4 separate regions of the Homo sapiens genome follow, and regions 1, 2 and 3 are each reported to be linked to region 4. The links are microRNA targets in miRTarBase. Many come from high-throughput screens and were not tested one by one. Region 4 holds a microRNA gene; each other region holds the end of a gene's coding sequence. Distances are from middle to middle.

What was found. Region 4 holds the annotated microRNA hsa-miR-21-5p (UAGCUUAUCAGACUGAUGUUGA, at 932-953, opposite strand). A microRNA usually pairs through its seed, bases 2 to 8, with sites in the 3' UTR of a target mRNA and lowers its output. Matches are read on the target gene's strand: a 7mer-m8 pairs with bases 2 to 8, a 7mer-A1 pairs with bases 2 to 7 and ends in A, and an 8mer does both.
Region 1: the mRNA of PCGF2 is a reported target of hsa-miR-21-5p. The part of its 3' UTR that is shown has no 7-base or 8-base seed match.
Region 2: the mRNA of ATXN10 is a reported target of hsa-miR-21-5p. Seed matches in the 3' UTR shown: 8mer at 2,367-2,374.
Region 3: the mRNA of TUBGCP5 is a reported target of hsa-miR-21-5p. The part of its 3' UTR that is shown has no 7-base or 8-base seed match.

Annotation. Positions count from the first base shown.
Region 1 is chr17:38,732,447-38,735,530 of GRCh38, reverse strand. PCGF2 (polycomb group ring finger 2) reads left to right here. Exons shown (of 11, transcript NM_007144.3): 11 at 1-1,633. The coding sequence ends at 308. It overlaps CISD3 (CDGSH iron sulfur domain 3), which reads right to left. Exons shown (of 4, transcript NM_001136498.2): 4 at 1-2,255. The coding sequence ends at 2,076. Among named protein-coding and RNA genes, the nearest start is that of CISD3, 3.6 kb to the right of the region's middle. RefSeq lists an enhancer at 81-608.
Region 2 is chr22:45,843,088-45,846,191 of GRCh38, reverse strand. It overlaps ATXN10 (ataxin 10), which reads right to left. Exons shown (of 12, transcript NM_013236.4): 11 at 3,014-3,104; 12 at 885-2,523. The coding sequence ends at 2,521. Among named protein-coding and RNA genes, the nearest start is that of MIR4762, 84 kb to the right of the region's middle. RefSeq lists an enhancer at 1-1,157.
Region 3 is chr15:22,996,960-23,000,063 of GRCh38, reverse strand. TUBGCP5 (tubulin gamma complex component 5) reads left to right here. Exons shown (of 23, transcript NM_052903.6): 23 at 198-887. The coding sequence ends at 244. Among named protein-coding and RNA genes, the nearest start is that of CYFIP1, 18 kb to the right of the region's middle.
Region 4 is chr17:59,839,122-59,842,225 of GRCh38, reverse strand. MIR21 (microRNA 21) reads right to left here and starts at 960; the gene lies at 889-960. VMP1 (vacuole membrane protein 1) reads right to left here. Exons shown (of 12, transcript NM_030938.5): 12 at 1-2,458. The coding sequence ends at 2,315. RefSeq lists enhancers at 1,185-1,914, 2,638-3,104.

The sequences.
Region 1 (3,084 bases), 21 Mb from region 4:
CCCCCTCCGAGGGCACCAACACCAGCGGGGCGTCCGAGTGTGAGTCAGTCAGCGACAAGGCTCCCAGCCCTGCCACCCTGCCAGCCACCTCCTCCTCCCTGCCCAGCCCAGCCACCCCATCCCATGGCTCTCCCAGTTCCCATGGGCCTCCAGCCACCCACCCTACCTCCCCCACTCCCCCTTCGACAGCCAGTGGGGCCACCACAGCTGCCAACGGGGGTAGCTTGAACTGCCTGCAGACACCATCCTCCACCAGCAGGGGGCGCAAGATGACTGTCAACGGCGCTCCCGTGCCCCCCTTAACTTGAGGCCAGGGACCCTCTCCCTTCTTCCAGCCAAGCCTCTCCACTCCTTCCACTTTTTCTGGGCCCTTTTTTCCACCTCTTCTACTTTCCCCAGCTCTTCCCACCTTGGGGGTGGGGGGCGGGTTTTATAAATAAATATATATATATATGTACATAGGAAAAACCAAATATACATACTTATTTTCTATGGACCAACCAGATTAATTTAAATGCCACAGGAAACAAACTTTATGTGTGTGTGTATGTGTGGAAAATGGTGTTCATTTTTTTTGGGGGGGGTCTTGTGTAATTTGCTGTTTTTGGGGGTGCCTGGAGATGAACTGGATGGGCCACTGGAGTCTCAATAAAGCTCTGCACCATCCTCGCTGTTTCCCAAGGCAGGTGGTGTGTTGGGGGCCCCTTCAGACCCAAAGCTTTAGGCATGATTCCAACTGGCTGCATATAGGAGTCAGTTAGAATCGTTTCTTTCTCTCCCCGTTTCTCTCCCCATCTTGGCTGCTGTCCTGCCTCTGACCAGTGGCCGCCCCCCACGTTGTTGAATGTCCAGAAATTGCTAAGAACAGTGCCTTTTACAAATGCAGTTTATCCCTGGTTCTGAGGAGCAAGTGCAGGGTGGAGGTGGCACCTGCATCACCTCCTCCTCTTGCAGTGGAAACTTTGTGCAAAGAATAGATAGTTCTGCCTCTTTTTTTTTTTTTCCTGTGTGTGTGGCCTTTGCATCATTTATCTTGTGGAAAAGAAGATTCAGGCCCTGAGAGGTCTCAGCTCTTGGAGGAGGGCTAAGGCTTTAGCATTGTGAAGCGCTGCACCCCCACCAACCTTACCCTCACCGGGGAACCCTCACTAGCAGGACTGGTGGTGGAGTCTCACCTGGGGCCTAGAGTGGAAGTGGGGGTGGGTTAACCTCACACAAGCACAGATCCCAGACTTTGCCAGAGGCAAACAGCCTTCCAATTGCCCCTCCACCCCCAGCTGAGGCCCGGTCACCTGGTCAGGACAGAGCAACTGCATCTAAAAGCACAAGAAGACAGAAACCTGTAAGCTCTGACCCCACCCCCACCCCTTGAGAGGTCAGCGGACCACCTCCTTAGGGACAGACCCTGGCAGGTCGCTGCCCACCGAGATTTCCTCAAGTGTGCATAGATCTGAGAGGAGTCGGGAGTCGAGACTCGAGATTCCATCATAGCGTAGGTGTGTGGGGTTGGGAGCCCCCTGATGGGCTTGTCTGTGTTTGCACCTTGTCCTGTGTCTGAGGTCCTGTGACTGTACCCTCCTTTGCCCTGGGACATCTGTATCTCTTGGCTTTGTAATAAATGCTGCATACTTTCTGGAGCCTGTAGTTCTTTGGGGTGGAGGGAAGAAGGGAAGGGTGCCTCTCATCTCTGGGTTTAGCCTGGCTTGGGGACCCCATACAGAATGAATCTGAACTGCCCTCTCCTGTGGCTGGTCAGGTGCCCCCAGCCCACAGAGAGGTTAAAATCTGGAGCAGGAGGCAGCACGTGGGCCTCATAGCAGTGACTGCAGGACTACCAGTCTGGTTGGGCAGGCTTGTTTTTGCCATCTTCCCCATCAGCAAACATTGAACCAGGGCCCACTCCCGCCTGCCCCAGACTGGAGACTTTTAGGTTATAAGGAATAATTCTTCCTTCATGAGCCAGCAGTGGGTACCAGAGTCTCTTGGGCTCAGCACCTGTTTCCTTTCCCACAGAAGGGGGTGCCTGTCAGAGGCCTGGAGCCAAGGCCACCTGTGGCTGGACAGCAGCAGCCCCCTCAGAGTGGGGAGCCCACTTCTGCCTTCTGCACGCGCTCACTCCTGTGGGTGCCATCGCAGTACGGGGGCCTCTGAGTGGCCTTGCAGGTACAGAGTGCCACCATGCGGGTCTCTTGGGCCTTGAACTTGAGTGGAGATAGGCCAGTGCGTTGGAAGAAGTGGGAGCCGTCACAGAAGGGCTGGTGGGGGAAAGACAGGAGTCAAAGACCTGACCCCACCTGCTGGGGCAGGGCAGGGCAGGCTGCAGGAGCTCAGGGGGAGTGGAGCACAGTGGTTAGGGTACAGGCTCCAGAGCAAGACTGCCAAGGCTCACTGAGTGACCTCTCTTATCTGTAATGTGGGGGTGATAAGAGTAGAGTTGTATGAGGAAATAAAATATGATCGTGATGCACTTTGCCTATAGTAAGTGTCTGGTAAGTATTTACAGAGTCTTTATAGCATTAGTCTCTGGGACACCCAGAGGGCCAGGACACTAATAGAGTGTGAGTGTGTGTGTGTGTGTGTGTGTGTGTGTGTCTCTGAGTCTCCACTGGATCATGAAATTCATTTACTTCCCATGTTCCTGGGTTAAAACTTCTTTGGGCTGGAGAGTACACTGTGGTAGCAATTTTGTTTGGCTCCAGGGAATAACTGGGCACGTGACAGGGAGTGAAGGTTACAAGGAGGAGGGGATGCCCCATAGCAAACTGGCTGGCTGGCACAGAAGTGTACTCCCCATCCCAGAAGCCGCTCAAGCAGAGACTGGGTAATGGAAACAGGCCCAGAAAGGTGACATGCCTTGCTAGCTGAAGGCAGAGCTGGTGCCAAGGCCTTTTTTTTTGACAGGGTCTCACTCTGTTGCCCAGGCTGGAGTGCAGTGATGCAAACACGGCTCACTGTAGCCTCAACCTCCTGGGGTCAAGCGGTCCTCCTTCCTCAGCCTCCAGTATGGCTGGGAACACAGGCCTGCCTCCATGCTAGTCTTTGGTGGGGGTAGAGGCATTTGTAGAAGCGGGGTCTCAACTTTGT
Region 2 (3,104 bases), not on the chromosome of region 4:
GGAGGCCTCAGGAAACTTAGGATCATGGCAGAAGAGGAAGCAGGCATGTCTTACACGGCTGGGGCAGGAGGACAATGAACAAATATTAACAAATCCTAACAGTTTAGTAAGTTGGCCCTTGAAATCTGTGGAGTATTGGTTTCAGGAACCCCCGCTTGGATGCCAAAATCTATGGATGCTCAAGTCTCTGATATGAGCCTTCACAGTATTTGCATATAAACTACCCGCATTCTCCCACATACTTTAAATCATCTCCAGATTACTTGTAACACCTAATAAAATGTAAATGCTATGGAAATAGTTGTTACCTTGTATTTTAAAATTTGTATTATTTTTTGTTGTTGTACTACTATTTTATTTTTCCTGAGTATTTTCAATCCCCAGTTGGTTCAATCTGTGGATACAGAGAGCCGACTGTTTTAAGATTGCAAAAATAAGTATTTTTGAAATCTTCACATCCATTGTTAAGGTATTAAAAAATAATCACTCTGCAAATACTTGGACTCAGTATCAAGCTGAGAAGCCTTCCCCTCTATCTTTTAAAGTGAAGCCAGCTAAAAGCTTTGTCAGCTCGCTCTTGAAAGCAATAATATGGTCACAAAACTTGCTGTGACCATTCTGTCTCTTTACAAATTTTGTAAGGCTGGCCTGCTTTTTTCTTCCTTCTAAATGACTGATTGAGGTGATGATTAATCCTCTATAGCATGTAAAACAAGGTTCTCAGGAGCTCCGAGTCCTCCACGGTAGAGGACAGGGAAGCTGTTGTGCTCAAGAATTAATCCATCCGAGGGAATCAAAGGCAGCCACAATGCAGTCATCAGCATGTTTTCACTATGCAAGCCCCACACTTCCTACTTAGAAAACACATAACCATTACCCCATTCTGTATTCTCACAAGGCTCCCTTTTATTTATTTGTGTTTGTTATTATATAGCTCATACCGACAAGTTTGTGCGATTCCACTGGTGTGCACACATCCATTGAGACAGGAAAAAAAGAAGTGTCTATTGCAAACTTGTTAAAAGGGAAAAGGGACTCCCACTGTTTTCTCCCTTTGGCCAGGCTTCTATTTAGAGGACAGAGCTTTAACTCTTTATGTCCCAGGAGAGAATGACTCCTTTGTGTAATTTTAAATTCTGCAATGGCTTCTTTACTGATGGAAAGTCATAAATGAGAGAAAAAATGTTATTCATAGATTGCTGCAATCCTAGAAGCTGATGTGTCTTCAGAGTTACACAGAGTACATTAGACAGCACATGGGAAAACTTTTACTTCATTCTCAACATGCTTAAGCTATTTTTACAAATCAGTTAAACTATGTCTACACAAAGCTTAGAAGCACTTTATTTGGGAGCAATCAGTATTTTTGTCAAAACTTTTGGACAGGTCTTTATTTTTGTTTTGGAAGGTTCAACACGAATTGTGCAAAATCTCTGGATATATTAGTTTAGCGATATGGTTGTTGAAGAAAATAATATGTTTTAAGCATTCACAACGTGACCTCCCCCTAGAGCTTTTGTTGATGATATGAATGATCTGGATTCAGTGAGTTCAGTGGTCATTTAATCCAGTCCTACCTCTCATACAGCAGACAGATAGATAGATGAACAGACAGACAGATAACTAGATGTCAAATAAACTCCTGCTCCCTAAAAGTACTTTTGCAATTTCAGTGAAGACATGGCTAAAACTGAGTGGCACCTTTATGAGACTGGTGCTTTTTAAATCAAAGAAGATAGAAATGTACCTTTAATCTACGGCACTGCACCAGAGCAGAACATAAGCTATTCCTTCCCCCATGACAGAGGCATGAAGCTGGGGAGGACACAGGCATTCACCTTGACACAGAATGGGTCCTGGGATGTCTACTTCTGGGATGAACTGGAACATGAAGAGTTAAGTGCCCACATGTTCTCTCACCAACCTCACTCCCTGCCACATTCCAAAGGGATAGGGCTCAGTGACAAGACAGCCCAGTACCCAAAATGAAGAGGGAGGGTTCTCGAATTAATTAACTGGAAATGAGTCTTGTCAATGTTTTGGAAAGGCAGAGGGGTGAAAAGAGATTGCTAGAATTAATCACAGTGAGAAACTACTTCAACCGCCTGCCAGAGTTCAGAAAACCCAATGAGAAGAGGAATATAAAGAATGATGCTGACTTGCCATCTGAAGGGACAAACACAGTCAAGCCAACATCCAAGTTTTGTCAAATAAGGGTTGTGCCCTCCAAGAGACTGGTTTATTATCTGCTGTCACAGTAAGTACAATATATTCTTTAAATGCACGTTCTATCCAGGGGGACAAAGGCAAACCACACAGTTACATTAATGCAAAGAAACAAGAGAACACTCAGTTACTTTCACTTTTAGCTTATACACGTTAAACTCTACTACCTAAAAGATTTGTATGTTCCCAAATTTGTACTTATAAATCTTCAAACACTTGCAATTTCACATACGGTAGAAGATGAAAAATCCATGAAACAGATTCCAAAAATTCAGGTATTTGGATGTAGTTCATTCACTAAAGAAGAAGAAAGAAACAAAATTGCAGATGTAGCAAATCTGTTCACAAGATTCATCAGACAAAAGGGGAAAAAACCCAGAACTTTGGTCAGTGGTGACAAATAACTTAGAGAAACCTAAAACAATTCATGCAATATTATTCAAGGAGTTCTGTTTTTTAAACTATAGTGAACATTAACTATCTTTTAAAGAAAATCTAATTCCTATGAGTAACTTACTTTTAGACCATGTATAACTTTTGATATGCCTTTTGTATTTCTCACCCAGAATGAGTTTGAAATTGTCCCTCTTTTAAGAAAATGGCAGCATAAAGCCGGAACAAAAAAACCGTTTGCAGCTATCTTTAGGGCTTTCCTCGGTAAACCACTATAGAGGGCACAATTCTCCCATCCATATTCTTACAAAGAGCCTCGTGCTTGAAGCAATGGGGAAGTGGAAACAGCTTTCTACAAACCAAAGGGAAGGACAGTTCCCTCGAGGGTACTTACTGGCTTAGGGGTGTCTCTAGTAGATTTCAGGATCAGCTTTTCGCCTTTCTTTTCAACTTCAAAACCCACTTTTTTAAGTAGGGATGCATCT
Region 3 (3,104 bases), not on the chromosome of region 4:
TGGCACATGCCTGAAATCCCAGCTACACAGCAGGCTGAGGCAGGAAAATTGCTTGAACCCGGGAGGCAGAGGTTGCAGTGAGCTGAGATTGTACCATTGCACTCCAGCCTGGGTGACAGTGGGACTCCGTCTTCAAAAAAAATTTTTTTTCAACATTTAAACCTATTGTTTTAACCTTATTTTTATTCTTCCCACAGTGGAATCTCTAGCGTTGTCACTCATGGCTGGCATGGAACAAAGTTAAATGTCTTCAGCGTAATAAATATCTCCGACTTTGTCATCATACATGTACATTTCCACCATGTGCAGCTGAAAAGTGAAAATATTTTTATTTTGGTTTATTTGTAAAACTTGTCCACAGTCAGCCTGGCACAGTCGCTCATGCCTCTAATCCCAGCACGATGGGAGGCCAAGACAGGCAGATCACTTGAGCCCAGGAGTTTGAGGCCAGCCTGGGCAACATGGTGAAACCCGGTGTCTACCAAAAATACAAAATGTATCCAGACATGGTGGTGTGTACCTGTAGTCCCAGCTACTCAGGAGGCAAAGATGGGAGGATTACTTGAGCCCAGGAGGTCAAGGCTACAGTGAGCCATGATTGCACTACTGCAGTGCAACCTGGGTGACAGAGTGAGACCCTGACTCAGAAAGAACCACTTGCCCACAGTCCAGACAGATGGATTGTAGGTGGGTTTTCTGGAGATTAGTAGATACTGTATAGAGTTGTATACATAAAATTGTGTCAGTAGTACAAAGTGTATATAGGCTGTTTACTCTTACATTTCCTACTGTAAGATACAGATTTATGGTACTGATACCTTTAAATTATATCATATTTTGAAAATGTAATTACTGATATTCAAAATAAATTAAAGGACTTAAAATCATTTTATTATCCTTTTGCTGCTGTCCTACAGTCACAGAAGCTTTTTATATAGAGTTTTACATGTTGTCTTCCCTAAAAGTTGTCTTAGATGTAGCTGTCCTAGAAATGTTTATATTTTGGCTGGGTGTAGTTTCTCAAGCTTGTAATCCTGGCACTTTGAAAGACTGAGGTGAGAGGATTCCTTGAGGCCAGCAGTTTAAGACCTGCCTAGGCAACATATGAGACCCCATCTCTCCAAAAACAACTTAAAAATTAGCCAAGGGCTGGGCACGGTGGCTCACCCCTGTAATCCCAGCACTTTGGGAGGCCGAGGTGGGCGGATCATCTGAGGTCAGGAGTTCAAGACCAGCCTGGCCAATGTGGTGAAACCCCGTCTCTACTAAAAATACAAAAAAATTAGCCAGGTGTGGTGGCCCACATCTGTAATCCCAGCTACTTGGGAGGCTGAGGCAGGAGAATCACTTGAACCCAGGAGGCAGAGGTTGCGGTGAGCCTAGATTGTACCACTGCACTCCATCCTGGGTGACAGAGCAAGACTCCGAAAAAAAAAAATTAGCCAAGCATGGTGGCACATGCCTGTGGTCCCAGCTACTTGGGAGGCTGAGGTGGGAGGATCGATTGAGACCGGGAGGTCAAGGCTGCAGTGAACCATGATTGCATCACTGCACTCCAGCCTGGACAACAGAGCAAGACCTTGTCTCCAACAAAAAAAAAGAAAGAAAGAAATGTATATATGTTTTGTTGTGCCTGAGAAGTTCTACATGGAAAATAGCTTCAACTGATAGCGATAAATGTAAAAGGCCAACTTCACTTAGGGCCAACTGTTGGTACATACTATTGTTTGGTATTTCCTTGTTTTTTGAAATGTGGAGGCTCACTCTGTTACCTAGGCTGCAGTGCAGTAGCACGATCTCGGCTCACTACAACCTCTGCCTCCTGGATTCAAGTGATTCTCCTGCCTCAGCCTCCCGAGTAGCTGGGATCTCAGGCGTGCACCACCACGCCCAGCTAATTTTTGTATTTTTAGTAGAGACAGGGTTTCACCTTGTTGGCCAGACTGGTGTCGAACTCCTGGCCTCAGGTGATCCACCCGCCTTAGCCTCCCAAAGTGCTGGGATTACAGGCGTGAGCCACTGTGCCTGGCAATATTTCTGAGCAATTTTTGTGAGCTAACCAGTTATATTTTGAATAGAATTATGCTTACTATTAAATTTTTCCATATTTTCTTTTTATAGAGTGAGACTATCTTTAAAAAAAAAAAAGGCCACACATAGTGACTCATGCCTGCAATCCCAGCACTTTGGGAAGCCAAGGTGGGTGGATCATGAGGTCAGGAGTTCGAGACCAGCCTGACCAATGTGGTGAAACCTTGTCTCTACTAAAAATACAAAAATTAGCTGGGCGTGGTGGCACACACCTGTAATCCTAGCTACTCAGGAGGCTGAGGCCAGAGAATTGCTTGAACCTGGGTGGCCGGAGGTTGCAGTGAGCTGAGATCATGCCACTGCACTCCAGCCTGGGCGACAGAGCGAGACTCTGTCTCAGAAAAAAATAAGAAAAAGAAAAAAAATATGAAAGCTAGAACTGGAAACAACAAAATGTGGAAGTTAGGACTAGAAAGCTTCTAGAAGCAAACATGGGAAATTAACACTACAAACTTGGGGTAGACAAAGATTTCTTACATAAAATCAAAAAAGGGGCCGAGCACGGTGGCTCATGCCTGCAGTCCCAGCACTTTGGGAGGTCAAGGTGGGTGGATCACCTGAGGTCAAGAGTTCCAGACCAGCCTGACCAATATGGGGAAACCCCGTCTCTACTAAAAATACAAAAATCAGCCGGGCGTGGTGGCGCACACCTGTAGTCCCAGCTACTCAGGAGGCTGAGACAGGAGAATCGCTTGAACCTGGGAGGCAGAGGTTGCAGTGAGCCGAGATCACACCACTGCACTCCAGCCTGGGTGACAGAGCAAGACTCCGTCTCAAAAGGAAAAAAAAAAAGGAATTATTGGTGAATTGGACATCACCAAAAAACATTGCTAGGAAAATGGTAATACAGGCCACAGACTGGGAGAGAACATTTCCCCTTAGCCCCTTTCAGGAACCATGTCATGCCCAGAGGCAACCACTGTTGCCCAGGGTGTCCAGAAGTAACTATGTTCAGAGTGTATGAAGGCATTTTAAATTAGTAAGACAAGCTTTTTTTTTTTTCATTGATGCAA
Region 4 (3,104 bases):
CTCTTTTTATTTACAGTGATACCAAACCATCCACTTGCAAATTCTTTGGTCTCCCATCAGCTGGAATTAAGTAGGTACTGTGTATCTTTGAGATCATGTATTTGTCTCCACTTTGGTGGATACAAGAAAGGAAGGCACGAACAGCTGAAAAAGAAGGGTATCACACCGCTCCAGCTGGAATCCAGCAGGAACCTCTGAGCATGCCACAGCTGAACACTTAAAAGAGGAAAGAAGGACAGCTGCTCTTCATTTATTTTGAAAGCAAATTCATTTGAAAGTGCATAAATGGTCATCATAAGTCAAACGTATCAATTAGACCTTCAACCTAGGAAACAAAATTTTTTTTTTCTATTTAATAATACACCACACTGAAATTATTTGCCAATGAATCCCAAAGATTTGGTACAAATAGTACAATTCGTATTTGCTTTCCTCTTTCCTTTCTTCAGACAAACACCAAATAAAATGCAGGTGAAAGAGATGAACCACGACTAGAGGCTGACTTAGAAATTTATGCTGACTCGATCTAAAAAAAATTATGTTGGTTAATGTTAATCTATCTAAAATAGAGCATTTTGGGAATGCTTTTCAAAGAAGGTCAAGTAACAGTCATACAGCTAGAAAAGTCCCTGAAAAAAAGAATTGTTAAGAAGTATAATAACCTTTTCAAAACCCACAATGCAGCTTAGTTTTCCTTTATTTATTTGTGGTCATGAAGACTATCCCCATTTCTCCATAAAATCCTCCCTCCATACTGCTGCATTATGGCACAAAAGACTCTAAGTGCCACCAGACAGAAGGACCAGAGTTTCTGATTATAAACAATGATGCTGGGTAATGTTTAAATGAGAACATTGGATATGGATGGTCAGATGAAAGATACCAAAATGTCAGACAGCCCATCGACTGGTGTTGCCATGAGATTCAACAGTCAACATCAGTCTGATAAGCTACCCGACAAGGTGGTACAGCCATGGAGATGTCACGATGGTAGGCAAAACAAGCAGACAGTCAGGCAGGATTTGATAAAAAAACAAAAACAAAAACAAACCAAAAAAACCCAGGCATTTCTGGCCTGTTAAGATCGAACCCCAATTCTATTCTATTCTGACATAATGCTCATAATGCTCCTAAAGGAAAAAAGTAAAATTGTTTATTTTCCTCCCAAGCAAAACAAAATGAACAAGTTCAATCAAAAACATCCCAATGGAAAAAAATCACACTAAGAATAAAACACTTACAGAACGGCAAGAAAACTGGGTTAACATATAAATTTGTGTCTGTTGAAACCAGAGTACATGCTAGAAAACATTAACACAGATACGACAGAGTGTGGTTTTTTTTTAGAAATGGGTAATTTCTCTCTCCAGTATCCTTTCACTTGTATGAGATATTTCTCCTCTCCTGTTTTCACAAACCAAGAAATCCCCAGGTAGGCCAATCCCAGAGGTGCCATTTAGCAGTATGCAGCAGCCCAGTTTCAGCATAACAAAACATGCCTTGGTAGTGGCTCTCTCATGCAAATAAAAGAAAGCTTAAGAAATTCTTGTTGTAGGTGGATTAGGCAAGGCTGCCATTCAGCTGGTATAAGCTAAAAGTAAAAAATCAAAACGCTCAAGAAAACGGACACAATTTTGGAATGATTAAAGATGTCTTTATAAAGTTTTTTTCAAGACTTCATTCTAAATACACAGAATAAAAAATGGTGTCAGCTCACTTGTAAGACACCAACCAGATTTTCCTTATACTGTCTCAAAATTTAAAGATCAATTTCCCCAGAGGGTGTGCAATGCATCATAAAATGGCCCTTTTTTGAGGATGGGAGAGGAAGGGTTGGGCAGGATGGAATATTAAATTGTAACATGATAAACATGCAAGACTGTTATCCAATCTAGATAATTTATATACATTTTGATGACTTAGGAAAACAAAGCAATCATTTGTGACAAGCCTAAAAAGCTTGACATATTTAACATACTTAGGAACTTTTTTTGTGCGGTGGGAATTCTCTAATTGTATCATGTGGGCCTTTTGAAAGTAACAAACAGAAGGCCAGTCTGTTGCAAGTTTGCTGCTGAACATCACATTCCACCCTAAGAAAACACAAGGTGGATTGCATCGAGGGTGGATACCTTACCTTAGCACAGAAGGAAAAAGTATGTCAGTGCAAAGTATGGACTAAACTGCTTTCAGGAAAAAAGTTGTAAAAATTGATACAGGTTGGAAAAGGGAATTTTCCTTCCCGGCTTGGAGTCCTCCCAATTTAAGGCAGAACCCATCCACTCCAATTTCTGCAGTTTAAAACTTTCTCTACTTATTTAGTTTTCTCCTCTGAGTTCAACCGCTGCTGGATTCGTTTGGCATAACTTTGTGCCATGGAGTTAATGATAGATAGGATGAAGTAACACACCATGACAACGACCAACTTTTCAAACATCCAGGACAACCAGTTTTCTCCCTGTAGAAATAAATGCAGAACAATGCAATGAAAAAGGCTTCATTAGTTCAGTAGTAAAAAGAGGATCATCTATAATGCTTGAAGTGTGTAACTTACAAAACCTAAAGAATTAAAAATGAAAAGTAAGCAACCCCAACTACTCTGAAATCTCCATTACTCTCCTTTTTACACCCAACTATCAAGATTTCACTTTGTTGGATGTAAAATCAGTGTTGAATCACATAGTTTAGAATGGGATGAGTGTGAGGTTAGCTCTTCTACTAGGACCTAAGAATAAACTCTTTGATTAAACTCAACTCTGAAGTCGCCATGCAGATACTCATGAGTATTGTCAAGACAGTTAAATATTTTTGTTCCAGTATTAGGAGCTGTTTTTAAAACACACAAATGTATCTGTTTCTGATGTCATGTTTGGTCAACTGAGGGCAGCAAAGGTCCATAAGAAGAGTGCAAGGCCATTAAAAAAAACAGTGCTCTGGCCGGGCGCGGTGGCTCACATCTGTAATCCCAGCACTTTGGGAGGCCAAGGCGGGCGGATCATCTGAGGTCAGTTTGAGACCAGCCTGGCTAACACGGTGAAACCCTGTTTCTATTAAAATACAAAAAATTAGCTGGTGTGGTGGCACGTGCCTGGAATCACAGCTAC